Linked DNA regions of Homo sapiens. The protein of the gene in region 2 interacts with the protein of the main gene of each other region in a pairwise test. Each region holds a gene or a part of one and is shown on either strand. Other genes may lie near its edges.

Evidence for each region.
Region 1: the proteins of CPNE7 (region 2) and SAXO1 interact in binary tests that used the Homo sapiens proteins (3 or more experiments, as listed by UniProt).
Region 3: the proteins of CPNE7 (region 2) and ZFP90 interact in binary tests that used the Homo sapiens proteins (3 or more experiments, as listed by UniProt).
Region 4: the proteins of CPNE7 (region 2) and PKLR interact in binary tests that used the Homo sapiens proteins (3 or more experiments, as listed by UniProt).

What each region holds. Positions count from the first base shown.
Region 1 is NC_000009.12:18,939,210-18,946,231, reverse strand, and holds part of SAXO1 (stabilizer of axonemal microtubules 1), read left to right. Parts: intron 1-4,392; coding exon 4,393-4,595; intron 4,596-7,022. UniProt on the Homo sapiens protein: May play a role in the regulation of cilium length. Stabilizes microtubules at low temperature.
Region 2 is NC_000016.10:89,571,206-89,578,762, forward strand, and holds the start of CPNE7 (copine-7), read left to right. Parts: upstream 1-4,552; 5' UTR 4,553-4,692; coding exon 4,693-4,866; intron 4,867-6,321; coding exon of another isoform or gene 6,322-6,333; coding exon 6,334-6,516; intron 6,517-7,557. UniProt on the Homo sapiens protein: Calcium-dependent phospholipid-binding protein that may play a role in calcium-mediated intracellular processes.
Region 3 is NC_000016.10:68,542,286-68,549,307, forward strand, and holds part of ZFP90 (zinc finger protein 90 homolog), read left to right. Parts: intron 1-7,022.
Region 4 is NC_000001.11:155,298,417-155,305,868, reverse strand, and holds the start of PKLR (pyruvate kinase PKLR), read left to right. Parts: upstream 1-4,430; 5' UTR 4,431-4,473; coding exon 4,474-4,573; intron 4,574-4,916; exon of another isoform or gene 4,917-4,981; coding exon of another isoform or gene 4,982-4,988; intron 4,989-5,588; coding exon 5,589-5,771; intron 5,772-7,452. UniProt on the Homo sapiens protein: Pyruvate kinase that catalyzes the conversion of phosphoenolpyruvate to pyruvate with the synthesis of ATP, and which plays a key role in glycolysis.

The DNA.
Region 1 (7,022 bases), on a different chromosome or scaffold from region 2:
CGATCTCGGCTCACCGCAACTTCCTCCTCCCGAGTTCAAGCGATTCTCCTGCCTCAGCCTCCCGAGTAGTTAGGATTACAGGTGTGTCCCACCACATCCAGCTAATTTTGTATTTTTAGTAGAGATGGGGTTTCTCCATGTTGGTCAGGCTGGTCTCATACTCCTGACATCTGGTGATCCGCCTGCCTTGGCCTCCCAAAGTGCTGGGATTACAAGCATGGGCCACCGTGCCCGGCCAGCCTTCTGGTTTTTGTAGTCAAGAAAAGGTGATTACCTAAAAGATCTGCCTTTTAGCTGCCCTCCCTTGCACAGACTGGAGCTGACCTTCAGGCTGGAAGCTTTGAATCTTAAATAGTTAATGGAAAATTAAGCAATGAAGCCTCACACAGTGCCATTTTCTGCTTCCACCTGTTGGCTCTCCCCAGAATCTACCTTTTTAGAGCTTTAAAGTCATTTGAAATAGTTTGCCTAGGGTTTATATGAAGTGGTGACAGATATTTGCCTCAGCCTTAGTGGGAGTTGAGGGACTCAGAGGGCAGAGGAGAAGACAGGTGCTATGTAACTTGGATTCTGGAGTGCATGGGCTTGGAATCCCATCTGTTATAGTGAAGGTAAGGAGGACTCTGTGTCCCATAAGGACCAGGGGCATGAATCAAACCCTGTGATTCAGCCAAGGATCTTTTGCAGCACAATGGGATGGACTCCCCAAGCTGCCTAGGATGGGAGAATAGTTTCTCTAGAAGGGTGCCTTTTGACATTGGGAAGTTTGAGAATAGCATATAGAAGTGACAAAGTCAATCAAATCAACTGACAAAGAGCAGAACCCCATAGAAGACATGGAGAAAAGATCATGAGGAGTGGTATCACGGAAGTCAAGGGAGAGAGTATTGAAAAATTGAGTGAGAGGATGGATGCTATGAACAACCACAGTGGGATAAGGTTGAGAAGCAGCGGTTGGGTCTGGAAAACAAGGTGATGCTTGGAGTATCCAGGAGTGAGGGGAATCAGATCTGATGGGTGGGACATGAGGAGAGGAAGGCAAGTCTGTACTTGTAGACAACACTTTCTGGAAGACAGAAGGGAAAACTGGAGGAGAATGGAGCTCAGTGAGGATAGTGTCTTGTTTTACTCTTTACCTTTAAAGATGGGAGGTAACACTCAATGGAGAAAGGAGGCAGTAGGGAGGAAGAGAGAAAAGCATGGCCTAGGAGATGGTCTGCAGATGAGATTCCCGAGAAAGAGGGCAGGGGTGAGAGAGGTTGGCTTTGGCCAAGAGGAGGAACTCCTTTTAAGATGGATTCCATTTTAATATAATTGATTACTTGGACACACTAATATATCTTCAAGTTTGCATAAATAAACATTAAAAACAGGTTTAAAAAAAGTGTTGCATGGCCCTTTGTCATGGTGAAAATCTTCATTTCCCACTGCCAGGCTCAGGACCCTAGCTCACTGTTACGTTATTTCCTCTTTCCTTTTGTCAGAGAGTTGTCAAACACCTTTCTTCAGCTTTGCTAAATGATTTGAAGTCAAGTTGTTATGACTTCCCCAGCAGGACCACTCCAACTTTTTACTTAACTCTGAGTTTAACTCTTGGCCTTCCCTACTCTATAACTTTTATAGCTACTTACCTAAAAGAAACTTACTTCTCTGACCAGTTTCTTTTTCTTGGTTCATGTCACATGTGCACAGAGACTGGGAAATGTACCACAGAAAGAGAGGGGAGATCCAGTGTTCTTAAAAAGAAAAGCTAGTTAATTGGAGCAATTCTGGGGAGACTAAAATATAGACTTTTCTTTTACGTGAATTTAAAGGCTGTAAGATTATGTGTGATTGGGGACATGCAGTTATGTTGCGGTTAATGACAGGTTTCAGTGAATGTTCTCAACATAAAAACATAATGAGGAAACACATAAATTCTGATTAAATTCACTCCTAAGCCACAGTAACTATGTTTGGGTAGGTTATAAAAAAGTCAAACTTTAAAATTTTTCTTCTCTTCAGAAGTAGATACCGCTTCCCCCCACCCCCCATAATCATTTGCCTTAGTTATGGCTGATCAATAAATTAAACCATAGAGGAACACTTACAAAGGAACTTAAATTTTATACTGGAAAAGGCGATTGGCTTTTGTCTTTGGGAAACCAATTTCAGAATAGTCTGTGAACTGGTGAATTTGGTTTTGGGCTTTTGTCTGCTCTTTTCCGGTAGAAGCCGTGGGAGATGCGCAATAAGCGTGCTTTAGTTTTCAAGAGTCTGGCAGCCTTTGAAGGGAGGTTTCTGCGGCATCCCTGAGAGGAAGCTGGTCCTCTTGGTCAGAGTAACTGCAGAAGAGGCTGCTATGGACTCTGTGTGCAGGGTCCCTGAGAGTGGCAGCCTCACAACTGGAAAGCATCCCTAGATGCTCTGAGGTTGGGTGGGCTCAGCACGGCAGCTCAGGCGCCCAGCTTTGTTCCTCACTGCATGCCCTTGGTACCTCCTGATACTCCTTGGAAATGAATAGGGTGTAGGCTTAGGTAGCCATCACTGAGCACAGGCTTTTATAAGGGTTTAGGAATGTGTGGTCTCAGGCTGCCTTGAAACCTGTCCATCCCTTCTGAGAGTGAGGAGAGCTCAACTTCCCTTGGGAGCACTCCCTTTAGAATGTACACTTTCTGACCAAGAGTCCCTTTCCACTCAGCTGGTTTTCAGATGGAGTTTTCTGGGCATTTTCATTTGTCTTTGTAGCCTAAGGACTTACCCTCTTAGTTCCCTGCTACAATTGGTTTAGTGCTGAATAGACACCAGGGTGTAGTACTTGCTCACTGAGAACAGCAGAAGTAGGAGCTGACCCTTGGCTGCTTGTTCAGTCCATTCCCTCCATAAGCCCCGATATGTACAGTCAGCTTCCAGACACTTCAGGCTAACAGCAGGGCCCCTAGGAAGGGAGCCCAGGCTGAATGTCCTATAACTGCCGCTAAGATATATTTTTAAATCTACCCAGAGGGTGTTAGGGGAGTTCAACTGAAGCATCTCCCATTTCCTCCTTAGAGCCCTAGAGAGACTAATTCTCCTGCTTCCTAACTTCCTTCTCCCATCCCACTAAGCATTTTCAGGACCCGGTTCGGGTTTACTGACAATCATGTGTATAATTCACGCAAGACAGGTTACAGTGGAGCGTGTTACCTTTGCTAGTCAAGCATGGCTGAGTAATGCTGCTCCAGATTTTGGCCAGGAAGTGGGTTTTATTGGTGTTTGGGCCTAACGTTTTCCTGTCCGGAAACCTTCCCCTTCCCTTGACAGGGATGTTCTGGCAAGCACCATCAGGAAAAATCTACCTTCCCTTTGTCCAGTTGAATAAATGGGTTCCAGGCAAAAACAGTTTGTTGTGTAAAACAGACACCCTTCAGAGGGAAATGTTAGCATTGAGAGGTGGGAAGTTGCGAGTGCCCTGGAGGGCAACACAAGTCCGAGCTAAGCCCTGGCTCCTTAGGGCGGTTCCTGGTGGGCATTGCAGTGAGCATCTGGGCCTTTTTATCTGGGATGCTTTGGGGAGGGACTGCTTCCTGTTTAGTGAAGACCATTATACTTTTTCGATCCTATTGTTTTGGTACTCCCTGAAACAATGGGGGCGCAGACACCAGATAGCAGAGAAATGAAGGAGTCAGGGTTTCCAGTTATTTCACTGTTTTCCTCTTCTGGGTTTTCTGTAGGCTAAGTAGAGGAAAGAGATAAACATTAGCAGGAGAAGCTTTTGGGAACACAGAGAAGGTGGCAGCGGCACCTGAAAGGAAGATACCTCCGCAGTGAAGGGGTTGGGTGGAAGGAAGGTGGAGAGCGCAGCAGTAGAAACGGTGGCATTGTGGTTGGAGTGCAGGGTTTTCAGGTGGGGTGGGGATCGTGAGAGACAAGGGTGAGTCAGGCAGGAGCCAGGTCCAGAAAGGCTTATAAATTATGCCAGGAAGTTGAATTTTACCTGGAAGAGTTTTAAACTGGGGAAAGCCATCTGATTTCCATTTAGAGAGTTTATTCTGGCCACATTATGGTGATTGAATAGAAGTGGTAGGAATGAAGGAGGAAGCTCAGGTGGCAGGCTGTTAGTGAGAAATTGTCAGGATCTGGACCAAGGGGAAAGAAAAACCAATGAGGTGGAGGGGCACTGGTGGTGATAGACTCTGGGGCCGTGAGGAAAGGAGGTCAAAGATGAATACAGGTGTCTGAGTTGGGTGAGAAGGAATTGATGGTACCCTTCTCAAAAGTGGGAAATAGAGGAGAAACAGTTCGGGGGAGGAGGGAAGGCAGGTAGAGTAGAACAGGACTTCTCAGCAAATGTTTGTAGAGTTGGGTTGAGCAGAAAACATAAGCCTTATCGCAAGCCAAGGACCCCAACAGCATGCACTTGCTTCCTTACAGGAGAGATTTTGGGCCTCACAAAGTGGCACCAGTGAAGGTCCACCAGTATGACCAGTTCGTCCCGAGTGAAGAGAATATGGATTTGCTCACGACGTATAAGAAAGATTACAATCCCTACCCTGTCTGTCGAGTGGACCCCATCAAACCTCGGGACAGTAAATATCCATGTAGCGACAAGATGGAGTGTTTGCCTACTTATAAAGGTGGGAGAGCACAGAGGGGCAGATTGGGGGAAAGACAGGCTGAGCCTGTGTGCGGGCCAGGAAATGTGTTTTATGTGCATACTCAGTTAGTGCAAGAGTTGGCAGACTACTTCCTACGGGCCAGATCTGGCCAGCAGCCTGTTTTTGTATAGCTGGAGAGCTAAGAAGAGTTAAGCATTTTTTTTTAATAATTGAAAAACAAATCAAAAGGATATAATTTGAGGACTGTGAAAATGATATAAAATTGAAAATTCAGTGTTCATGTTTTATTGGAACGCAGCCATATTCATTCATTTACGCAGTATCGATGGCTACTTTTTTTTTTAGCATAGTAGCAAAGTTGAGTAGTTGTTGACAGAGACACTACAGTCTGTGAGGCATAAGACACTTAATACCTGGCTCTTATACAAAATATCTGCCAACCCCTGCCTTAGCTTGCAGTTTGAATCCTATATTGGGGGAAGCATTTCAAGTTCAGGCTAAGTTAGTTTCTACCACTGATTAAGTGATTGATTCATTCACATGTTTAAAAAATATATCAAAATGTAACATACATATGGAAAAGTATACAAATTATAATTATAGAGATCAATAAATTTGCACTGAACAAATCCATATAAACAGTACCCAGATCAAGAGATAAAACATTACTACTCCATTTCTGTTACCCTCCCCAATGAGAATATAACCATTATTTTAACCTTTAATACTTTAAATTAGTTTCGCCAGTTTTGAACTTTATATAAATAGGATTGCTTCTTTCTTTATTGAGTATCTATTGATATTACCTATGAGGTGTGGTCCTAGAAACTGAAGGAAGCATAATGGCCTGCCCTTGACTTTCTAGCCTAGTGGAGAGACAAGATACGTGGTCATATGTGTTTTGCTAGCAGACAGCCACTCTATGGAGCTCAGCTGCAAAGACTGAGACCATGAGACTGGAGACCAGGTTTGTAATCAATAACTCATGCTTATGATACCAACCTTTGCCTTGCCCTAGGAGGACAAGCTGAACAGTTCACGGACCTCTAAATGCTGTGAATAGAGAGGGCCACTTTTATTTAGTCAAGCCAAGCATTTAGGGTGAAGAGGGTGGTGGAGGTAGGGAGGTTGGAGGGATGTGAGCTCCTAGAAGGGCCTCTAATTCTGTCATCCTGGAGGACCCTGTGCTTAGTTGAGTTTCTCTGATTCTTCCAGGAACTGAAGACTGGATTGGCGTGGGCCTCTTCAGCAACCTGGGCTCTGCCCTTTTATTTTCTTTAGCTTCTTCCTCTAACACTCCCCCATAGATAGCTACCTTTGGTCAAGCCACCTTTTATCAGCAGTACAAGAACTGACTAATATTCTGAATGTTATCATACCCTGAAATGGCCCCACCTCTGAAGTCTTTGTGCACATCGGCATCCTGTCCTCTGGGCTTGTCCTCTTATCTCCTCCCACCACGACAGTCCTTGGCCTTTTTGGGACCTCCAGTCCATTGACGTCTTAATCCTCCCTCTTACCACCAGCCGCTCCTGTGTCTGTCCCTCCCCATGGAGTCTCTACTTCATGGCCTATCTTTGGAGCCCAGCTCCTACTGATAGCCGAGAGTCCCTCTCTCTTCAGCCCTTTTGCTGTTTCCTCCTAGCAAAGCCCTAATCCTGTTTTCCCCATGTCTACACCTGGGCACACACCTGAGCATATCTCCAGTCTTGTCAGCTTTTACTCATTTTCCACAGAAAGGGAGCAGAGCAGTCTTCTATACATGGCAATCTGATCTGACCACTCCTTTGTATAAAACTCCTCAGATAATCATTTGATAAAATCATTATTTTGTCTAATCATATCATTTTATCAAACGATAAAATCATTATTTTATCAAATCATATTATTTTATCAAATCATATGATCCTATTACGATAAAAACCCAAACCTTTTCTGCCTCCTCTGATGCCTTGGAAGTCCTGGTGTCTTCTAAGCCCCTCTGCTCCAGCCTCAGGGCCTTCTTTCAGGTCCCTTCCTACATTTCTTTTCTGCTTCAGGGCATTTGTTTAGCACATGTGATGCCTTCTATATAGAATCCTTCTGCTTCCTTAATCTAGCACTTATCCTTTCAGCTAGCAGCTGAAAGATCACATTCTGAGCCCTTCCGCCATGTCAGGCTGGATGCTATATGGGTGCCTTGCACTCCCCTGTCTTATCATGCATTGTGTACTTTTAATGCTTCCTTTAATGGCCAGGCTGTAACCTCCAAGGGGCAGGGATCTGTTTGTCTTTTTCTTTCCCAATTACCCTCTCACAGCAGGCACCACACAGGAGTCCATACAACCAGGTGTATGACCATGGGTAGGGTGTTGGGGGGCACTTTTGCCTCTACTGAATGCATTCTTCTCCTTTTTAATCCAGTGTTTACAAGAAGACCAGAAATAAGGCAGCACAGACATTGAG
Region 2 (7,557 bases):
GCGGGCACGGGAGGAGGTGAGCGGGGCACGGGAGGAGGTGAGCGGGGCACGGGAGGAGGTGAGCGGGGACGGGAGGAGGTGAGCGGGGACGGGAGGAGGTGAGTGGGTACAGGCGGTCCGGGGGCCGGGGAGGTGGTCCAGGGGCCCAGGGCCACTGCTGGTCAGCAGGCTTGGCAGTCAGAAAGAAGAGAGGACCCAGGAGTGGGGACAGTGGGACCAGGAGCCCAAGTCCTGGGGACTCTGGGATGGCTGGTGCCTGAGTCTGAGCACAGAGGGGTCCTGGCTCAGGAGGGCCAAAGGGGGTGAGGAAGAGCCAGTCCCGGACGGTGTCCCCAGCGTGCAGTCCTGGGCAGGGACCCTGACCCCTGGGTCTCACTGCACAGGGGCTGTGAAGTCTGGGCCCCTCCACAGTAAGTGCTCCTGAGGGTCTGCTGGGAACATTCTGGGCAAGGGCAGCAAAGCCATCAAGCCACGCCGGGGGCTGGACGGGCGAAGGAAGGCGTGAGGGCTGGGTTCTGAGCGGGGTTCCAGTTCCACCCCAGGGCCTGGACGGGCCGAGGAAGGTGTGAGCGCTGGCTTCTGAGCTGGGTTCTGGGTTCCAGCTCCACCCCTGCTGTGTGGTCTCAGCCACCACAACGCCCTCTCTGAGCCATGTCTCCCGCCAGCAGTGGTGTCTCCTGCTGGGCAGAGATGCTGGGGGCTGGGATGGTCTGCTCCTGGCTGCATGCAGACAAGGGGCAGGAGGGATGGCGGCCCGGGGCTGCACGCGAGAACGCGCCTGGAGGAGAAGGGAGTCTCGAAGAAGGGGGTCTCATCCACACCCAGAAGACGGTGTTGGGGGAAGGAAGTGGAGGAAGGGGACCCCCTGGTTGGAACATATGTTGCCCTGGGGTGGCCTGTGTCTGCGCTTGTGTGTCTTGGGTGCCTGGCGTGTCTGCGTGTGGGCTGTCTCTCCATGAGTACGTGCACGTGTCTGCGGTATTTGGCACACGTGTGTGGCGTGTGCTCGTGCGTGCCTGCATGTGCTGAGTGTGGTGGAGGAGAAAGTCCCCCTAATCAGTCCCCAGGTCTCTGAGGCTGTAACAAGGTCAGCGAGGAACTGAGACTGGCCAGGTGTGTTGTCTCAGCCAACAGCCGGCGTGGCCGCCTCTGGGCATGGTTGATTTCTCAAATAAGATCAGCATCAGATCCTGCAGGAAGACAATCTGATCCAGACAGGTTGCAGATGTTCTAAGATAAAATAACCTTTCTTTAGGAGGAAAGAAAAGAAGAGGGTAGGTTTGCAACCAGATTAAAAAAAGCAGCACCCATCCGGACACGTGGAGAGCTGTTTCCTGTTAAACAATCCTGTTAGTAACCCCCACCCTCTGCAATTTCTTGTTTTGAGGCAACTTCTGGGACAATCTCTCCACATGAAGGGCAGGTTCGAGGACCCTGCATTCAGGGGTGGGGACCGAGCCCCGGACCGGTCCACTGGAGCACACCAGCTGTGTGCTCAGGACGGCCAGGGAGGAGGCCATGGACTCTGGACCTGGCTCAGGGACAAAGGGCTGTCAGAGTGTGGGGGAGAGCACTGGCTCCAGGGGATGTGCCTCAAGGCAGTAGCAGTGGGCCTGGGGTCTGCCGGGAACCTCTGGAGGCCCTGGACAGGTTTCCCTGCTCCCGGTTGGCCTCGTGGCCAGTGTTACTGAAATGGGAGATGGGGACTCTGTGACTGATGGAGATGACACCCTCGAGGCAGATCCAGGACCAGAGAGCAGCCACCAGAGCTGCGTTTCATTCGCTGATCCGCACTTCATTCATCCGCCTGGAGTTTGTTGTCTTAGACTCTGTGTTGGGACCTGTACTGGTGTTAACTCAGGCCTCGGTGGACTCCTGGTCCAGGGTGGATGAGGTCATGGGCAGCACAGCCCTGGACAGTGGAACTGATGTTGTGGACGTGTGGGCCGGGAGCCCAGGGAGGGATGTTGGGTGGCGGTTCAGACTGGGCTGGGCTTTGCAGGGTAGGTAGGGGTCGGGTGGTGGGAGAGGCTGAGGCAGAGGCACTTGGGCCTGAAAAGTATCTGAGTCCTGGATGCCAGGAAGCCACACAGGGCACTTGGGCACAGATATGTCATTGCTGCTCCTAAAATTGATCATGTGTAAGCCTCTGGATAGCCGTGGGGGTCGGCACTAATCAGAGGGTCTCATAGGTAACCCAGTGATGAGGGGATCCAGGCTAACCATTGAATGCAATATTGTCAATAAGAAAGAAAAAAGCAGGTTACAGAACAGAAACCATCTGCACCAACACCTATGGTGCTCCAACCGTGCCAGGCAGGGTCCCGGGCCTGGGCCGCGTGATGAGCCTGGCGTGGGGTCCCGGGCCTGGCCCGCGTGATGAGCCTGGCGTGCAGATACTGAAGAGTCCTCTCAAGTGTGGGAAGGGCTCTGAGAGTTAGGCACCTTTTTTTTTTTTTTGACAATTAAAAGAAATTTGCACATAAAAAAAAAAACCTGGAGGGTTAGATGTGGGGAGGTGATGGGCTGCTTTGGGGTCTGGAAATTTGTTTTTACTCCCTATCTGCATTGTCTAATATTTCAACAAGGAACACGGTTATTATTCCTGCGTGTATGTGTGTGGATCTCATTTCCTGTGTCTGGCCCTGCAGGGAAAGCTGGGAGGGGGAGCCTTGGAAAGATGGCTCCACATGGCCTGCGGGGTCCTTCCATTGTACCTGGGCCTACTGCGGGCTGATCCCTGAGCAGGGGCAGGCAGCGTCCAGACACCAGTGCCACAGGGGAATCGGCTTTTCCTTCTGTGGTTTCTCTCCATTAGAGCAGGCTGCAGTCAGGGCTGTCAGTCAGGAGACAGCAAGCCGGCCGAGGGCTGTGGCTGGAGATCCCAAATCGCCCTGGGCTTCAGAGACTCAAATTCCCAAACTCTGTGATCTTTCTTGGCTCCCTGCGTCCTTTGCTTGGAAGCCATCTGTTATTTTGCCAGGGTGCCGCTATGTGACAGCCAAGGGCTGAACTGGGGTGTTCCAGGTTTAAGCCGGGTACCCCTCAGACAGCCTGGTGGACCTCAGGCCTCACGCCACACTGCAGACGAGCAAACCTCAGGGCGGTGGTGAGGAGCTTTCGGGTGAGGTCAAGGCAGGAAGCGGAGCTTGGTCTGGGGAAAACTGTCCCAGGGCTGCTGGAACCGAGCGGGAGGCACGGCCTGCAGGAGCTGCCTGGGCGCCCGCACCCTTTGCCTGAATTTCGCATCCTTTTCCCATGGAAGTGGTTGGGGACCGAGGATGTGGCCTCCCGGCAGCCTGGAAGGCTGGGCTGAGGAGGACACAGGGCCGGGAAGGCCCAGACTGGTCCCTAGAGAGCGGGACTGGCCTCTGCCCACTGCGGGCTTCAGGGAGGAGGCGCAGAGGCCGGGGAGACAGCAGATGGGGCCCTGCAGGCCTCGCTGCGCCCTGACCTGTTCCTCGCCTCTTTAGCCAACCTCCCGGGAAGGCAGGAGCCGGTCTCCATGGCCTCTCCCGGCCCTGCCAGCCCCGTGGGGCCTCCCCGCCCTGCAGCCGCGCCCGGCGCCATCCCGCCGTCCGACCGCGAGGGGACGCCGCTGGCCGCGTTCCTCCTCCCAGGCCGAGGCTGCCTGTGCTGCCTCCCGCCGGCGGGGCCCTGAGCCTCCTCGCCCTGTCGGCGGCGGTCCCCTCTGACCGCAGGGTCTTCTTCTAGAGTCCTGATCGCCGAGGCTGAGCGGAGGCGCCCGGTCTTCCCGCCTCTTCAGTCTTAATGTCTCCCTCACCCTCGCCCCCCACCCCCGTGGCTTTTGGCGAGGTCCGTGCCCTATTTTTAGGCAGAAATCGGCAAAAAGAGTGGACTGCGAGGTGGTTTCTGTCCCCGCCGACGCCTCCTCTTCCGCTGCTCCCTCCCCCGGGACCGGTGATGGGGAAGGTGGGGGAGTGAGTTCAGGGCGGAGCGGGCCCACCCCCCACGGAACCCAGGCCTGCCCCGCCCCGCCCCGGCCTCGGGGGACTGGTGTGGACCGTGCCCCGCGGACCCCTCGGAATCAGACCGCGATTCAGCCCTCGGCCCCCCGGGACGGTCCTTCCAGCCCCAGACGAGCGCGGCGCCTGCACACAACAGGCGCCCACTAAATGCTTGTTGATGGAGGTGGCGAGTACCCGAAACCAGCGGAGCCTGGAAATGGGATCCTAGAGATCCGGGAAGGGCGCGGGGATCTGGTGCCAAGCTGGGGTCCCCCTTTTGCCTCCCCTAGTGTCTGCCTGGGTCCGAACCCGGGCTCAGGCCCCGCGCAGCTCGGAGCCTCCAGCCCGGAGCCGGTCCCTGGGCCGGGGATGCGCACAGCCGGGGAGGGCGCGCCCGACCTGACCCCAAAGCTATCAGTTGGGGGGGGGGTCCCCGGGGAATTAGAAGCTGTCTCCTCCCGGGCATCTCCGAGGGGCACCCCTGCCTCTGCCCCCTGCCCTCATTTCCCGCCGCGCCCCTCCCCGGCCCCGCCCCCCGGCCGCGCCCCACCCCCTGCAGTCCCCGCGCGGCGGCCGCCCGAGCCACGTGCGCCCGCGCCCGGCAGGCGTTCAGGGAAGCGCGGCCACGCCTGGGCCGGCCACCATTTCCCGGGCGCCGCGGCGGCGCCGACTCGCGGGCAGCGGCCCCTCAGTGCGCCCAGCCGGGCCCCCGAACGCCGGGAGCATGAGCGCGGGCTCGGAGCGCGGGGCGGCGGCAACCCCCGGGGGTTTGCCCGCGCCCTGCGCCTCGAAGGTGGAGCTGCGGCTCAGCTGCCGGCACCTGCTGGACCGCGACCCGCTCACCAAGTCCGACCCCAGCGTGGCGTTGCTGCAGCAGGCGCAGGGCCAGTGGGTGCAGGTAGGGCCGGGGCGTGGGAGGCCGAGAGGCCACCGGGCCGGGGCTGGCGCCGAGCTGGGGATGCGGAGACCAGAGCGGGCGCGCTGAGGCCAGTGGGGCGCAAGGCGGGGCCCCCCGGAGCTGGGGCTCAGCTCGGGGTCAGGGTTGGGGGTTACCAGGTCTGGGGGTGGGGTGTCCAGAGCTGTGGGGAGAGGCTGGGCTGGAGGAGGTGGCGGCGAGCGGGGTTCGGAGGAGAGAGGGGGGTGCCCCGCAGTGAGGGGTGCGGCCCAGGGTTCGGGGAGGGGGCCCCGGGCCAGAGTGAAGCGCCCAGGCATGAGGCGCGGGCAGGGGGCTCGACCAAGAGGCGCAAGGAGATTGAGGGGTGAGGGGCGCCGGCCGACGGGGGGCGGGAGGCTGGGCGGGAGCAGGCCGGCGAGGGAGCGCGCGCTGGGGTGCGGACCTCCAGGCGTCCGGGGCTCCCGCTCCAACGTGGGTCTCAAGCGAACCCGCTGTGATCGCGGTTGGGGTCCGAAGGGGCACGGGGCCGGCGCCAGACGGGCGCTTCCTCGGTCACCATCTCGCGTGAAACGCGTGGCTTCACCTCGAAAGGGCGAGAAACGCATGGCGCGAAGCCGCAGCGGGCGGAGGAGCCGGAACTCGAACCCCAGTCCGCGCGGGGCGCCAGCGCTTTTCCCCGGCGCAGGGGTCTCTCCAGGCTCCAGCGCGGGCCCGGGCGGCTGCTCGGGCGGTGGAAGGGACGCGGTCACCCGGTGGCGTCTCCGGTCATCCACCTTGAGGGTGAAGGGCCTGCCCCGCCCTCACCGCCTGTCCCCAGGGTTCCGGCTGCCCCCGGAGGCCCCGTGCCCGCCCCTCACAGCCTGAGCCCACCCTTCACATCCCGAGCCCACCATCCCCACGGAGGCCTCGTGCCCGCACCCTCAGAGCGTGAGCTGTACGGGTGGCCCATGTTTGCCCTTGGTTTGAGGTGCAGGATTTTTCAGGATTCTGAAATGAGTAGCCTACTGGCCCAGCTGGGTCTTGTCCTTACGGGGCAGTTGGACCAGGGAACTGCATGGGATGGGAGAGGCTGGTGAGCCCATGGTACCCCAGCCAGGAGGGAGGGCCCCCCTGTACCCTACGCCCCCTCCCCACTCAGCTGGTGCTGGGGAGCGGCCTGCACTTTAGGGCTGCCCAGCCCAGGGTGTGAATCTGATCTCGCCCCCGACTCAGCGTGTCATTCTCGTCCTCTGTGAGCCTCACTTTCCCCATCTGTGATCTGAGGGTGGAGCAGACAGTGGTGGCCAGGGGTGACCCCCAGGGTGGCCCTCGGGATTGTGGTCCCATGGACAGAGAGCAGGCAGGAGGTCTTCCCAGGGTATGAGTCCTCCTGAGGTACCTGGGCGTGGGTGAGCGGCAGAGGGGAGATGGAGGTCTGGAGCCCGGGGTGGAAGCCTCTGGAGTGGGGTCGGCTCACAGGTGCACTTGCAGGTGGGCAGAACCGAGGTGGTCCGGAGCAGCCTGCATCCCGTGTTCTCCAAGGTCTTCACGGTGGACTACTACTTCGAGGAGGTGCAGAGGCTGCGCTTTGAGGTGTACGACACGCATGGGCCCAGCGGCTTCAGCTGTCAGGAGGACGATTTCCTGGGGGGCATGGAGTGCACCCTGGGGCAGGTGGGTGCCCCGTCCCCTCGGAGGGAGGAGGACGGTTGGCGTGGGGGCCACAGCCGATTCAAGGCTGATGTACCAGCACCGCAGGGACCCTGCTGGGGTGGCCAACCTGGCTCTGCCCCCTCCTCAGCTCCTCCTGAACAGTCATTATTAGATTAAAATATACATGTAATTTTGAACTGGGTAATACATTCGTATGTTTTAAAGCCTGAAGGTATAAAAGGCTGTGGAGCGCCTCCATCCTGCCCCATCCAGCTGCTGCCAGGTCCCTGGACATTGTCCAGAGAGAGATTTTCACAGGAGCAAACCAGCCTATCACTTTTCCTCTTTTTTCTTTTTTTTCTTTTTCTTTTTTTTTTTTTTTGAGATGTAGTCTCGCTCTGTCACCCAGGCTGGAGTGCAGTGGCGTGATCTCGGCTCACTGCAACCTCCACCTCCTGGGTTCAAGCGATTCTCCTGCCTCAGCCTCCTGAGTAGCTGGGATTACAGGCACCCGCCACCACGCCCGGCTAATTTTTGTATTTTCAGTAGAGACGGGGTTTCACCATGTTGGTCAGGCTGCTCTTGAAATCCTGACCTCGTGATCCGCCTGCCTTGTCCTCCCAAAGTGCTGGGATTACAGGCGTGAGCCACGGTGCCCAGCCCACTTTTCCTCTTTTTTCAAAAATACACAAATTACGTTCCCTGTTCTGCATCCTGCGTTTTCACTTCCACGACGTGCAGCAGCCCCTCCATATCAGCACCTAAAAGTCTCCTGGTGGCCGGCCGTGGTGGCTCACACCTGTGATCCCAGCACTGTGGGAGGCCGAGGCGGGCAGATCACTTGAGGTCAGGAGTTCGAGACCAGCCTGGCCAACATGCTGAAACCTCATCTCTACAAAAAGTACAATAATTAGCCGGGCATGGTGGCATGTGCCTGTAATCCCAGCTACTCTGGAGGCTGAGGCAGGAGAATCGGTTGAACCCGGGAGGCAGAGGTTGCAGTGAGTGGAGATCTCACCACTGCACTCCAGCCTGAGTGACAGATTGAGACTCTGTCTCAAA
Region 3 (7,022 bases), about 21 Mb from region 2:
CCTTTGAATAGGAGCAGAGTCTAAGCAGGTGAAAACAAAAGGGGACTGTAATCCCAGCACTTTGGGAGGCGGAGGCAAGCGGATCACTTGAGGTCAGGAGTTCGAGACCAGCCTGGCCAACATGGTGAAACCCTGTTTCCACTAAAAATACAAAAATTAGCTAGCCATGGTGACGGGCGCCTGTAGTCCCAGCTACTAGGGAGGCTGAGGCAGGAGAATCGCTTGAACCTGGGAGGTGGAGGTTGCAGTGAACCGAGATCCTGCCACTGCACTCCAGCCTGGGTGACAGAGTGAGACTCCATCTCAAAAAAACCAACCCCAAAAAACAAAAGGGAGAGGGTAGAGCTGATTGATTTGGTGAATCGGGAGTTGGGAGGCAAGAAGATGGCGGTGCATGTTCATTAAAGCATTTTCTTTGTAACACCAGCTGTGGGCTGCTGGCAGTGGGTAGAGGAGAATAGAAGGAGTTTGGACTTGTTCTTTTTGGCCTTGTAACTCGTTCATTCATCATTCATTCATCTACTCATTCACCAGGTAGTCATTGAGCCCTATGATGTGTCAGGCACTTTTCTAGGCAGTTGGGATAACTTCAGTGAACAAAATTAGGACCCTGCTCTCAAGGAGCTTACATTCTAGAGAGGACAGACAGAAGAATTCAGTAAATAAATAAATTGTATGGTATCCTAGAAGGCAGTAGTATCTCAAGAGGGAAAAAAGGTAGAGAAAGGTAAGGGGGTCTGAGTGGGGAGGTGGGAGGTTTGTAGTCGGGGTGCAATTTAAAATGATGTGGTCAGGGTAAGCCTTATCCTTATTGAGATGGTGACACCTGAGCAGACTTGAAGGCGATGAGGGAGTAGATGTGTAGGGGAAGAGTGCTCTGGGCAGAGGGAACAGCCTAGCGGCAAGATGTATGTCTGGTGTATTCAAGGAGCAGCAAAGAGGCCAGTGTAGCTTGAGCTGGTGATTTGGGGCAGGGAACTAATACAACTTCATAGATTTTTTAAAAGATTGCCATGAATGATGAATCCTAGGATAAAAAGTTTGATATTATATTTGATAATAGTTCCTTTAGAGAGGTGTTTTGATGAGTGGGACCTTTCCCCTGAACATAGTTAACAAATTCCTGAACTGGCTCCACCTGAAGCGGGATGGGACTAGGAGCAGAGATGGAGGAGCCGGGATACCCATTTAGAATGTTTACGTAGATATAGCTGTGTATTTATAGGATTGTTAGTAGCAATGTCTATGTAAACATTATACATCCTTATTTGCCTTTTTTTCTTTTTTTTTTTTTGAGACAGAGTCTTGCTCTGTCGCCAGGCTAGAGTGCAGTGGCGTGATCTTGGCTCACCGCAACCTCTGCCTCCCTGATTCAAGCTATTTTCCTGCCTCAGTCTCCCGAGTAGCTGGGATTACAGGCATGTGTCACCACGCCCAGCTAATTTTTGTATTTTTGGTACAGACAGGGTTTCACCATGTTGACCAGGATGGTCTCGATCTCCTGACCTCATGATCTGCCTGTCTCAGCCTCCCAAAGTGCTGGGATTATAGGCGTGAGCCACTGTGTCTGGCCTGCCCTTTTTTTTTTTTTTTTCGAGGTAGAGTCTTGCTCTATCAGTGTGCAGTGTGCAATGTTGTCTCGCTGCAACCTCTGCCTCCCAGGTTCAAGCAATTCTCCTGCCTCAGCCTCCCAAGTAGCTGGGATTACAGGTGTGCACCACCACGCCCGGCTAATTTTTTGTATTTTTACTAGAGATGGGGTTTCACTATGTTGGCCAGACTGGTCTTGAACTCCTGACCTCAAGTGATCCACCCACCTTGGCCTCCCAAAATGCTGGGATTACAGGTGTGAGCCACCACACTGGCTGGCCTCTTTTTCATAACATGTGTACTACATTTTTAGTTAGGAAACAAAAAAGGCATTTGCCATTCTTAAAGTTGAAGCCACCAGAGCAGTAAGAAATGAGAGAAGTTTTAAGCTAGGTGTGGTGGCACACACACCTATAGTCCCAGCCACTTGGGAGGCTGAGGTGAGAGGATCACTTAAGCTCAGGAGTTTGAGGCTACAGTGAGCTATGATTGCACTACTGCACTCCAGCCTGGGCAGCAGAGAGACATCCCATCTCAAAACAAACAAACAAAAAAACAGAAAAGAGAAATGAGGGAAGTTTTATAAGGAAAATGCTTCATATGGAGAACCAGATCTCTTCATGTTAGAGAAGAGATTTCCTTGATAGAGAGGAAATGGGGAGGAGGGGTCAGGGCCTGGTCTCTGTTGACTCTGGATTACAGAAGCTCTGGTTAGATCATCAGGGTGAACAGACCCAGCAAAACCTGGCTTAGGTCACCCAAACTTAGACAAGATGCTTCTGGGGCCACCAGGGGAAACCAGACCACTTGCTGAATCAGGTCAGGATGTTTGTAGTCAAGGATGTCCGAGCTCCCTCTGTCCAGAGGTTCCCCTTCTCAGCTTCAGCCTGAGCTGACAGGAGGTGGTCTCTAAGTCTCAGCTGAGATTGCACCTTCCCGTGTAACGTTAGGTACCGCTCCTGTGTGTGCCCATAGCACCTGTGAACACCTTTTTTTTTTTTTTTTTTTTTTTTTTTTTTTTTTTTTGAGATGGAGTCTCATTCTGTTGCGCTGAAGTGCAGTGGCGTGATTTCGGCTCACTACAACCTCCGCCTCCCGGGTTCAAGCGATTCTCCCGCCTCAGCCTCCAGAGTAGCTGGGACTACAGGCACGTGCCACCATGCCCAGCTAATTTTTTGTATTTTTAGTAGAGATGGGGTTTCGTCATGTTATCCAGGATGGTTTCGATCTCCTGACCTCATGATCCGCCCGCCTCGGCCGCCCAAAGTGCTGGGATTACAGGCATGAGCCACCGCGCCCGGCCCATGCACTCCTATTATAATATTCTTACATGGAATGGAGTGGTGCATTTACCCAGCCTTCTCTGTACCAGGTTTTGTACTCTTTCAGAGTAAGGCCATTTGACCCCTCCCTTCAACCCCTTGCCCAGACTAAACACGAGGTAACATGATCATTCAGAATCACTTAAGCCCAAGCAGCAATTTTATACTTTCTGCTACTAATATAGCACAAATTATATTTTCCAGTCACAATGAGCCTATTTTATTTTCTGATAAAATGATTACATGAAACAATGTGATTTGCACTGAACAGTTTTTAAAAAATTTGTCTTTAGGATGTTAGGATGTCAAAACCTGTTCCTCTAAGAACTGTTTCAAGCCAGGCGCAGTGGCTCACGCCTGTAATCCCAGCACTTTGGGAGGCCGAGGCAGGTGGATCACGAGGTCAGGAGATCGAGACCATCCTGGCTAACATGGTGAAACCCCGTCTCTAATAAAAATACAAAAAAATTAGCCAGGCATGGTGGCCGGTGCCTGTAGTCCCAGCTACTCGGGAGGCTGAGGCAGAAGAATGGCATGAACCTGGGAGGCGGAGCTTTTAGTGAGCAGAGATCACGCCACTGCACTCCAACCTAGGTGACTGAGCGAGACTCCGTCTCAAAAAATAACTGTTTCAAAAATAAGATTCTTTTCCTTACTTTTCCGTGTTGTATTACTTTTGTTAAAGTATATCTTATGGCCGGGTACAGTGGCTCACACCTGTAATCCCAGCACTTTGGGAGGCCGAGACAGGCGAATTGCATGAGCCCAGGAGTTCGAAACCAACCTGGGCCACATAGTGAAACCCCATCTCTACTAAAAATACAAAAATTAGCCAGGTGTGGAGGCACACGCCTGTAATCCCAGCTACTTGGGAGGCTGAGACATGAGAATTGCTTGAGCCCGGGAGGTGGAGGTTGCAGTGAGCTGAGATTGCACCATTGCACTCCAGCCTGGGCGACACAGCAAGACTCTGACTCAAAACAAAGTATATTTTATTAAAGTATGTGAGCATATATAATATTAGAGACTTTTTACCTTTGATATAATCTTTGTCAGTTTTTATAAATTTTGATAAAATACACATAAGACAATCTTAAGTGTACAGTTCAGTGGTATTAAATACATTCATATGTAATGCAGCCATCACCACTACCCATCTTCAAAATTCTTCATCTTGTAAAACTGAAAACTCTACAATCCATTAAACAATAACTTTTCATTCTTTCTTCTTTCAGCCCGTGCAACTACCATTCTGCTTTCTATCTCTATGATTTTAACTACTCTATCTCATATAAGTGGAATCAAACAGTATGTTTTGTTTTGTTTTGTTTTTTATTAAGACGGATTCTTGCTCTGTCACCCAGGCTGGAGTGAGTGGTGCAATCTCGGCTCACTGCATCCTCAGCCTCCTGGGTTCAGGCGGTTCTGTCTCAGCCTCCTGAGAACTGGGACTACAGGCATGCGCCACCACGCCCAGCTAATTTTTGTGTTTTTAGTAGAGCCAGGGATTCATCATGTTGGCCAGGCTGGTCTCGAACTCCAGACCTCAAGTGATCTGCCCACCTCAGCCTCCCAAAGTGCTGGGATTAGAGGCGTGAGCCACCACGTCTGGCCAAAATCACACAGTATATCTTTTTGTGGCTGGCTTATTTCACTTATTATAATGTCTTCAAGATTCATCTAAGTCGTAGCATATATCAGAACTTTCTTTTAAAGGCTGAATACAGTGCTTTAAAATAAAAGCCTTTCTAAGGCTAAATACAATTCCATTTTGCTTATCCATTCATCCATTGATAGACACTTGCTTTGTTTACATGTTTAGCTATTGTGAATAATGCTGCTATGGCACTGAACATGAACATGAGGCATTGAACTATTGAACGTGGGGGTACAGATATCTCTTTGAGACCTGACTTTAAATTCTTTTGGTTATATACCCAGAGAGAAATTGCGGGGTCATACGGTAATTTTTTTCCGGAACCACCATACTGTTTCCATAGCAGCTGTATCTTTTTACATTCTTAACAGTGCACAAAGGGTTCTAATTTATCCACATCCCCCCAACCCTTGTTATTTTCTGTTTTATCTTGATAGTAGCCATCCTAACCAGTGTGAGGTGATATCTCATTGTAGTTTTGATTTGCATTTCTCTAATAATTAGTGTTCTTGAACATCTTTGTGTATCTTCTTTGGAGAAATGTTTATTCAAGTTCCTGGCACATTTTTGAATTGTTTTTTGTTGGATTTTTAGGAGTTCTCTATATATTCTGGGTATTACTTGCTTAATAATCTAGACTTTTTAATAGAAAAAAGTCATTTATGATCCCTCTTCCTTAGGACCTCTGTATTTGTTTTGGTGAATTTTCTTTTCTCCTTATGCATATTTTTCCCCTTAAACATTTTTAATTACAATGTATTTTAAATTTCATATAAATTTTATGAGGATTATTTTTGTTGTTGTTTAAAATCAGTTTTAATGACTATATTATATTGCTTTGTATGAATGTACCAAAATTTATTTAGCCATTTCTCAGAGAACATTTAGGTTGTTTCTGAAATTTTTACTATTATACATAATGCTGGGATAAAATTCCACTTGGTTGTAATACATAAGTTTTTCAAAATACAGTTGATCTCTCTTTTTTTTTTTTTTTTGAGACAGAGTTTTGCTCTTGTTGCCCAGGCTAGAGGGCAATCTCAGCTCACTGCAACCTCTGCCTCCTGGGTTCAAGCGATTCTCCTGCCTCAGTCTTCCAAGTAGCTGGGATTACAGGCGTGTACCACCATGTCTGGCTAGTTTTGATTTTTTAGTAGAGATGGAGTTTCACCATGTCGGTCAGGCTGGTCTCGAACTTCTGACCTCAAGTGATCCACCTGCCTCAGCCTCCCAAAGTGCTGGGATTACAGGTGTGAGCCACCGTGTCCGGCCCAGTTGATCATTTTTTAATATCTGTATTACTAAGGGAAATAGCCACCAGAGAGAAAGCACTCTCTTGGATGGGTTTTGGTGTCATGCTTATCCTTAATTTGTAGAAACATTCAGATTGCTTTTCACCTTTTTCTGTCTTTTGAAAGAATTTACCTATAAAACATTTAGACTCAGGATTTTTATAGACAAGATGTTTTGGCAACAATTTTCTCTATTTCCTCCTCAATTATAAAGGTTTCTGCTTTTTTGTGTAAACATTGGTAGTTTAGAATTTAAAAGTTTTTTGTTAAGATTTTTTGCATTTCTTAACACACTAGTGTGTATATTTCACTGTTCTGTTTATCCTCCTTTTTTTTTTTTTTTTTTTTTTTTTTTTTTATTGAGACGGAGTTTCGCTCTTATTGCCCAGGCTGGAGTGCAATGGCGCAATCTCGGCTCACCGCTACCTCCGCTTCCCAGGTTCAAGCAATTCTCCTGCCTCAGCCTCCTGAGTAGCTGGGATTACAGGCATGCACCTCCACACCCGGCTAATTTTGTATTTTTAGTAGAGATGGGGTTTCTCCATGTTGGTCAGGCTGGTCTCGAACTCCCGACCTCAGGTGATTCGCCCGCCTCGGCCTCCCAAAGTGCTGGGATTACAGGCATGAGCCACTGTGCCCAGCCTTATCCTCCTATCTTTAAGTTCATCTTTTAAAAATTTCTTCTTACTCGATTTATCAGAGGTTTTTCTATTTGGCTGGTGCTTAAGAGGAACCAGCCTTAGATTTGGCTGTTAATGCCATCGTTTTTCTGTTTGCCTCTGTTTTTTATAATCCAAGAATTTAATTCACTAACCCATGTGTTTTTTTTTAATCCTCGAAACAACTCCTCATTTTCCTGCATTGAGAATTACCCAGATTCTGTATCCATTCACTCAGCAGACGTGTTTGGAATGCTTGCTCTATGCCAGGCAGTGGTTCTTAACCAGGGTCATGCTTCAGAACCAGTCAGGAAGTGGTGCCTGCTTCCTCTGGGGTGGTGACAAGGCTTCAGTGAGGAAATGTGGTGAGAGTGCACGTAAATGACTGAGTTTAGTGTTTGCCTAGCAGCGAGTGTTCAAGAAATCTGAGCTGTTGCTCTTTGATAATGAACCACCTGAGGAGCTTTTAAAAGATGCTGGGCAAGACCCTCCATGCATGGAC
Region 4 (7,452 bases), on a different chromosome or scaffold from region 2:
GTTCTGCACCAGCCTGGACAACGTGGTGAAACTCCATCTCTACAGAAAATACCAAAAAAAAAAAAAAAAAAATTAGCTGGGCATTGTGGTGCGTGCCTGTAGTCCCGACTCCTTGGGACGTTGAGGTGGGAGGATCACCTGAGCCCAGGAGATTGAGACTGCAGTGAGCAGAGATCATGATACTGCATTCCAGCCTGGGCTACAGAGGAAGGCCCTGTATCAAAAACAAAGTAATGCCAGACCATCCTTAAAGTCCCATGTCTCTGCCAACACCACAAGCACAAGGCCTGAATCCCCAGTCCCTGAAGTCTGCCACATTCTCTGTGGGTACAAATTTTGTCTCTCTTTATTTGTTGTGTCTTCTATATACAGAAAGATGAGGCCCCATGCTCATTTCCCTCCGGAAGTCCTCTCTACTATCTCTCTCTTTCTTTTCCAACTCCAGAGTCAGAGACTTCTCCCTTTCCCACCCACTGAAACAGTCCCAAGGGGCAGGCATGGAGCTTAGTGGTTACAGCTCGGGCTCTGGAGCTCCACTATCTGGGCCTGAATCCCAGCTCCACTCCTGACAAGACTTTTTGCATCAGACAAGTGTATTCGGTAGGGTTTCTTCAGGAAATAAAGAATTCTCTTAAATGGGATAATTTGAAGGTGTTTCATAACAGGATTATACAAAGGAATGGGCAGGGTGTTGGTAAACCACAACGGATAGTGCATTACCCCAGATCTAATAACAGTGGGCTTTGTTACCCCTGTAAGGTCCAAGGGATAGGGAGAGAATGGTCCCTAGAATGGCAACTGGGGAGGTAAATGCTCAACCTCACCCTCTCCATCTCATCTCCTATGGGTGCCACTCTCCAAACCCTACAGACGCCACTGTGCAAAGCCGTCAGCCTCCTGGCCCCACAGCAGAGTGGAAAAGGAACACACCTTGCTACGGCCCAGTTCCCTCATCTGTAAAACAGCCTGTTGATCCTACCTTCTTTCTAGGTTGTCACAATGATAAAAGGAGATGGTGTCCATGAGGCATGAATGCTGTTCCAGCACACAGGAAGTGTGCTCGATGAACAGCTCCAACTGTCTGACTATGGATTTTAATGATTAACTGGCTTCTCAAATTTAGCCTGTCAAAACAGAAAGCTTGAATTTCCCCCTACTTCAAACCTATTTCTTCCGTAGTCTCAGTTAGTGGCGCTACCATCTACCCAACTGCTCAAGCCAGACTCCTCGACACTAGAAGCCGCCCTCTCCACGGCTGTTTTGCCGTTCCACTCTGCTGGCTCTTCTCCAAAATGCATCTCCAAGCCGTCCCCCTCTCTTCGTCTTCACTGCCAACATGCTAGTCCATCACCTACCACCTAGATTCTTCCTAAGCCCGCAGTAGTTCTGCCTGTACCTACCATCTGTTCTTTTTTTTTTTTTTTTTTTTTTTTTGAGACGCAGTTTTGCTCTTGTTGCCCAGGCTGGTGTGCAATGGCATGATCTCGGCTCACTGCAACCTCTGCCTCCCGGATTCAAGTGATTCTCCTGCCTCAGCCTCCCAAGTAGCTGGGATTACAGGCACGCACCACCACACCTGGCTAATTTTTTGTGTTTTTAGTAGAGACGAGGTTTTACCGTGTTAGCCAGGCTGGTCTCAAACTCCTGACCTCAGGTGATCCGCCTGCCTTGGCCTCCCAAAGTGCTGGGATTACAGACGTGAGCCACCGCTCCCGGCTACCATCTATTCTTTACCCAGCAGCGGGAGGGACCTAAACCATCAGTTGGATCATGTCCATCCCCTGGGTAAACCCACCACATTACAAGATCCTGCTCAGGTCCCCTATCTTCACTATGGGCCACGACCCTGCACTCCAGGCACTCAGCCTCATTGCAGCTCTTTGTCTCCTTGGCACCAAGCTTTTTCTTCCTCAGAGCCTTGGCATATATTATTTCTGCCCCCGCCCCGCCGCCATGGAAAACCCCTTTCTCCATTTGCCCCCACCGGTTCCTTCTCATCCTTCAAATTTCAGCTTCAAAATAATCACTTCAAAGAGGCCTTCCTCAACCATCTCATCTTGTCTAAAATATATCCTCTAGGTCAGGCATGGTGGCGTGCACCTGTAATCCCAGCTACTCAGGAAGCTGAGGCATGAGAATTGCTTGAACCCAGGAGGCAGAGGTGGCAGTGAGCTGAGATCGTGCCACTGCACTCCAGCCTAGGTGACAAGAGTGAAACTCCGCTTCCAAAAAAATAAATAAATAAAATAAAATACACCCTCTCTCTTCTCCCACTGGCTTCTGTGTTCCAGCACCCTGATCCACTACTTAGTAGCACTTGCAAGGTTTGTAGTTACATATTTATTTCTCTGATACTTGTTGATAGTCTGTCTCCCCACTATACTGTAAATCTCACAGAGGGCAAAGGCCCTGTCTGTTTTGCTCACTACTGTGTCCTTAGGGCCTGATACAGCGTAGGTGCTCGATAAAGATTGGACAGTGGGGAATGGGCAAATGGTAACTAATGAATGCTATGATGATGATGATGCTATCAAAGCCCTTCCAGAGAATCCCACCAGTTAGTATCAGCTGAACCCACAGCTAGTGTCACACCAAAAGTGGCATCAGGGCAGCACTCACAAAGGATGCCCCAAACCATCCCAAGATGGGGCTGGTTGGGATTCCAGTGAATGAAGCACTAAATGCCAGGGCAATCAGGCCAAAGCATACATTAGGGGAACTTACCTACAGAACAGCTACTGCACATCCTTGCTGTGGACAATGGGACAAAGGGTGTTCTACCCAGGTATGTTCTCAAGGAGGGGTTCGGGGTATGGTGTTTATAGGAGTGTTTAAGAAATTTGAAGCCAGTACTATGGCTCACACTTGTAATCCTGGCATTTTGGGAGACCAAGGCAGGAGGACCACTTGAGCATAGGTGTTCAAGACCAACCTGGGCAACAGAGTGACACCAGTCTCTACAAAAATAAAAAGTCAGCACCTGTGGAAAGAAAGGAAAAAAATATTTTTAATAAATAAAAATTTAAAAAGTAGCCAGGCATGGTGGTGCACACCTGTAGTACTGGCTACTTGGGAGGCTGAGGTGGGAGGATCGTTGGAGCCCAGGAAGTCAAGGCTACAGTGAGCCATGATCACACGAGTGCACTCCAGCCAGGGTGACAGAGTGAGACCCTTTAAAAAAAAAAGAAAGAAAACAAGGCTGGGCATGATGGCTCACACCTGTAATCCCACCAGTTTGAGAGGCCGAGGCTGGTGGATACTTGAGGCCAGGAGTTGGAGACCAGCCTGGACAACATGGTGAAACCCCATCTTTACTAAAAATACAAAAATTAGGCCAGGCACAGTGGCTCACACCTGTAATCCCAGCACTTTGGGAAGCTGTGGCGGGCAGATCACCTGAGGTCAGGAGTTCGAGACCAGCCTGACCAACATGGTGAAACCCCGTCTCTACTAAAAATACAAAAATTAGCCAGGCGTGGTGGTGCATGCCTGTAATCCCAGCTACTCAGGAGGCTGAGACAGGATAATCGCTTGAACCCAGGAGGCAGAAGTTGCAGTGAGCCAAGATCACGCCACTGCACTCCAACCTGGGCAACAGAGTCAGACTCAGTCTCAAAAAAAAAAAAAAAAAGAAAAGAAAAGAAAAAAGAAAAACAAAATTAGCTGGGTGTGGTGGTGCACGTCTGTAATCCCAGCTACTCGGTAGGCTGAGGCAGGAGGATCGCAGAGGTTGCAATGAACTGAGATTGCGCCACTGCACTCCAGCCTGGGCGACAGAGTGAGACTCTGTGAAAAAAAAAAGAAAAAAAAGAAAAAAGAAAAAGAAAAAAGGAAGGAAGGGAGGGAGGAAAGAAAATTTCCCTGGGGGTAGGAGTCTATAAGTTTAGCAAAATAGTCGATCTTTCAGTGTTTCCAGCAACAACCTAATCAAGTTTATCAGTGTCTGAGAATGTTCAAGGTACCATCTTGGGTTCAAACATGTAGGCGAAAACATGCAGCTGGCCAGGTTACAGAGTGGTGAAGGCACTCTGCATTTCTTGGTTGAGACAGAGAAAAAAAGTGGTCAGAACTGGGTAACCCTCCCCCCACCATATTATCACAGTGATCCCTTTTGTCTTTCTTCAGGCTCCAGCCCCACCCTACAGCCCCTGCTCCCTGGATTCACTAGAGCTAACTTCAGTAAAGTACAAAGAAAATGGGGCCATATGACTGGCCAAAAAAAAAATATCTATTCACGTGGATGACCAGATAGTATGAATGGATTGAAAATTTATCAGGAAAAAAGGATGAGAGGAAATGCCAGGAGATGAGGGCAGAGAGCAGGCCGTTCTGGGGGAGGGATTCTGTGGGGACAGGGTGGCCTACTGGGTGTGCCCCTTTTCTCTTCTCTGTCTCCCTTAGATAAGACCAGCAGTTTTGTCATCCTCTCCCTCTCATTCCATGGTCCCGCAGCCCCAGGCCCACACTGAAAGCATGTCGATCCAGGAGAACATATCATCCCTGCAGCTTCGGTCATGGGTCTCTAAGTCCCAAAGAGACTTAGCAAAGTCCATCCTGATTGGGGCTCCAGGAGGTAAGAAGGGGAGACAGAAGCCATGGAACATAGGAGGAAAATGAGGGTGAAAACTAGGAGCCAGGGTGGAGGGCATAAATGATCCACATCAGCCACTGGCTAGGTGGGTTTTGGAGAGGAACGTACGTTCTTCAGAGCCTCCCGTGTGTTAAATTATGGACCCTGGCCTGGGTCTTTTCCAGGCCCTATAGGCAGGCCAGAGCCACAGCATGTAAGCCACGGGGCACTCCCGTGGTTCCTGGACTCTGGCCCCTGGCATACAGGGCTTCCAATGGAACAGGAGACAGTGGTGACACTTTAACCAGTCTGCAGAACTGATCCCCAGCCCAGCTGGGCCTCATGCCTCTGACAACCCAACAGTGTGGAGCAGACCCACAGAGAGGGAGACCCAGAGAGGTGTGCAGTGGCATGGAAGGTGCGGCTGGAATCGGGGGCTCCTCTGAACTGGGATGGGTCAAGCTACAGGGACCTCTGTGTCTGTAGCAGCTTTGAGAAGCCTGGGGAGACTCAGAGGATGGGGTGGGGAAGCCAGCCAGTAGCCAGGGGTTGGAAGGGAGAAAACAGAGACCTTTGGAGCAGGAACTGGGTGATTCTGGGTCTGCATAGGGTGAGGCTGCTGGGGACTAGACATCAAGGGGTGGTGGGGTTGAGGGTCATCAGTAGCTGCAGGTCGGGGGGTCCTGGGTTGTGCGGGGTCAGTATAACTGAGTGGTCAAGAACTTGGGCTAGAGTTAGTCAGACCTAGATTTGAATCCTAGCTGATCCATACTTAGAAGCTGTATAATATTGGACCATTTATTTCCTGTTTCTCAGCCTCTGTTTCTTTATCCATAAAATTGGATAATTATAGAACATTTAACAGTACCTGCTTTATAGGATCCTTGTGACATAATAAAATAATATATGCATGATGCCCAGCTCATAAGAAGGGAAGGAACAGAGGGTATGCTGAGAGACGAAGGCATGGGGAGGAAGGGCAGGTGACATGCAGTCCCTGAGCCCCCTTCTACCACAGGGCCAGCGGGGTATCTGCGGCGGGCCAGTGTGGCCCAACTGACCCAGGAGCTGGGCACTGCCTTCTTCCAGCAGCAGCAGCTGCCAGCTGCTATGGCAGACACCTTCCTGGAACACCTCTGCCTACTGGACATTGACTCCGAGCCCGTGGCTGCTCGCAGTACCAGCATCATTGCCACCATCGGTAAGCACTCCCATCCCCCTGCAGCCACACAGGGCCTATTGGTATTTCTTGAGGTGCTTCTTCATCTTTTGTCTCCTTTGAGACTTCTCCATGTTTGACACAGTCATTCATTTAACAAAAATTTGTTGAGCATATAGTAGACAAGATTTTGGGCCCTGGGAGTAGATCAGTGAAAAAAACAGACAAAAATCCCTACCCTTGGGGAGCTGACAGTCTAGCTGAGTATGACAATAAATAGTAAGCACAATAAATTATTTAAAATAAGTAAATTATTTATTCCGTTAGAAAGTGAGGCCGGGCATGGTGGCTCATGCCTGTAATCGCAGCATGTTGGGAGGCCCAGGTGGGCAGATCACTTGAGGTCAGGAGTTCGAGACTAGCCTGACCAACATGGAGAAACCCCGTCTCTACTAAAAATACAAAATTAGCCGGGCATGGTGGTGCGTGCCTGCAATCCCAGCTACTCAGGAGGCTGAGGCAGGAGAATCGCTTGAACCCAGGAGGCGGAGACTGTGGTGAGCCGAGATCACACCATTGCATTCCAGCCTGGGCAACAGGAGAAAAACTCCATCTCACAAAAAAAAAAAAAAAAAAAAAAAAAAAAAAGTGGGCTGGGCTCAGTGGCTCATGCCTGTAATCCCAGCACTTTAGGAGGCCAAGGTTGGCAGATCGCTTGAGCCCAGGAGTTTGAGACCAGTCTGGGTAAATGGCAAAACCCATCTCTACAAAAAATACAAAACTTAGTTGAGTGTGGTGGTGCATGCCTGTAGTCCCAGCTACTCAGGAGGCTGAGGTGGGAGGATCACTTAAGCCCAGGAGGTCACGGCTGCAGTGAGTCATGATCGAGCCACTGTACTCCAGCCTAGGTGACAGACGAGACCCTAGAGAGAAAGAGAGAAAGAAAGAAAGAAGGAAAGAAAGAAAGAAAGAGAGAGAGAAAGAAGGAAGGAAGGAAGGAGGGAGGGAGGGAGGGAAGGAAGGAAGGAAAGAAAGCAAGCAGGCAAGAAAGAAAGAAAGAAAAGAAAGAAGGAAGGAAGGAAGGAAGGAAAGAAAGAAAGAAAGAGAAAGAAAGAAAGAAAGAAAGAAAGAAAGAAAGAAAGAAAGAAAGAAAGAAAGAAAGAAAGAAAGAAAGAAAGAAAGAAAGGAGTGAAAGTTGGCCGGGCATGGTGGCTCTTGCCTATAATCCCAGCACTTTGGGAGGCTGAGGCAGGTGGATCACCTGAGGTCAGGGGTCCGAGACCAGCCTGGCTAATGTGGTGAAACTCTGTTTCTACTAAAAATACAAAAAATTAGCCAGGCATGGTGGCATGTGCCTATAATCCCAGCTACTCGGGAGGCTGAGGCAGGGGAATCGCTTGAACCCGGGAGACAGAGATTGCAGTGAGCCAAGATCACGCCATTGCACTCCAGTTTGGGCAACAAGAGCGAAACTCTGTTTGTTTGTTTGTTTGTTTTTAAAAAAAGAAAAAAAAGCTGGGCGCGGTGGCTCACGCCTGTAATCCCAGCACTTTGGGAGGCCGAGGCGGGCGGATCACCTGAGGTCAGGAGTTCGAGACCAGCCTCAACATGGAGAAACCCCGTCTCTACTAAAAATACAAAAAATTATCCGGGCATGGTGGTGCATGCCTGTAATCCCAGCTACTCAGGAGGCTAAGGCAGGAGAATTGCTTGAACCTGGGAG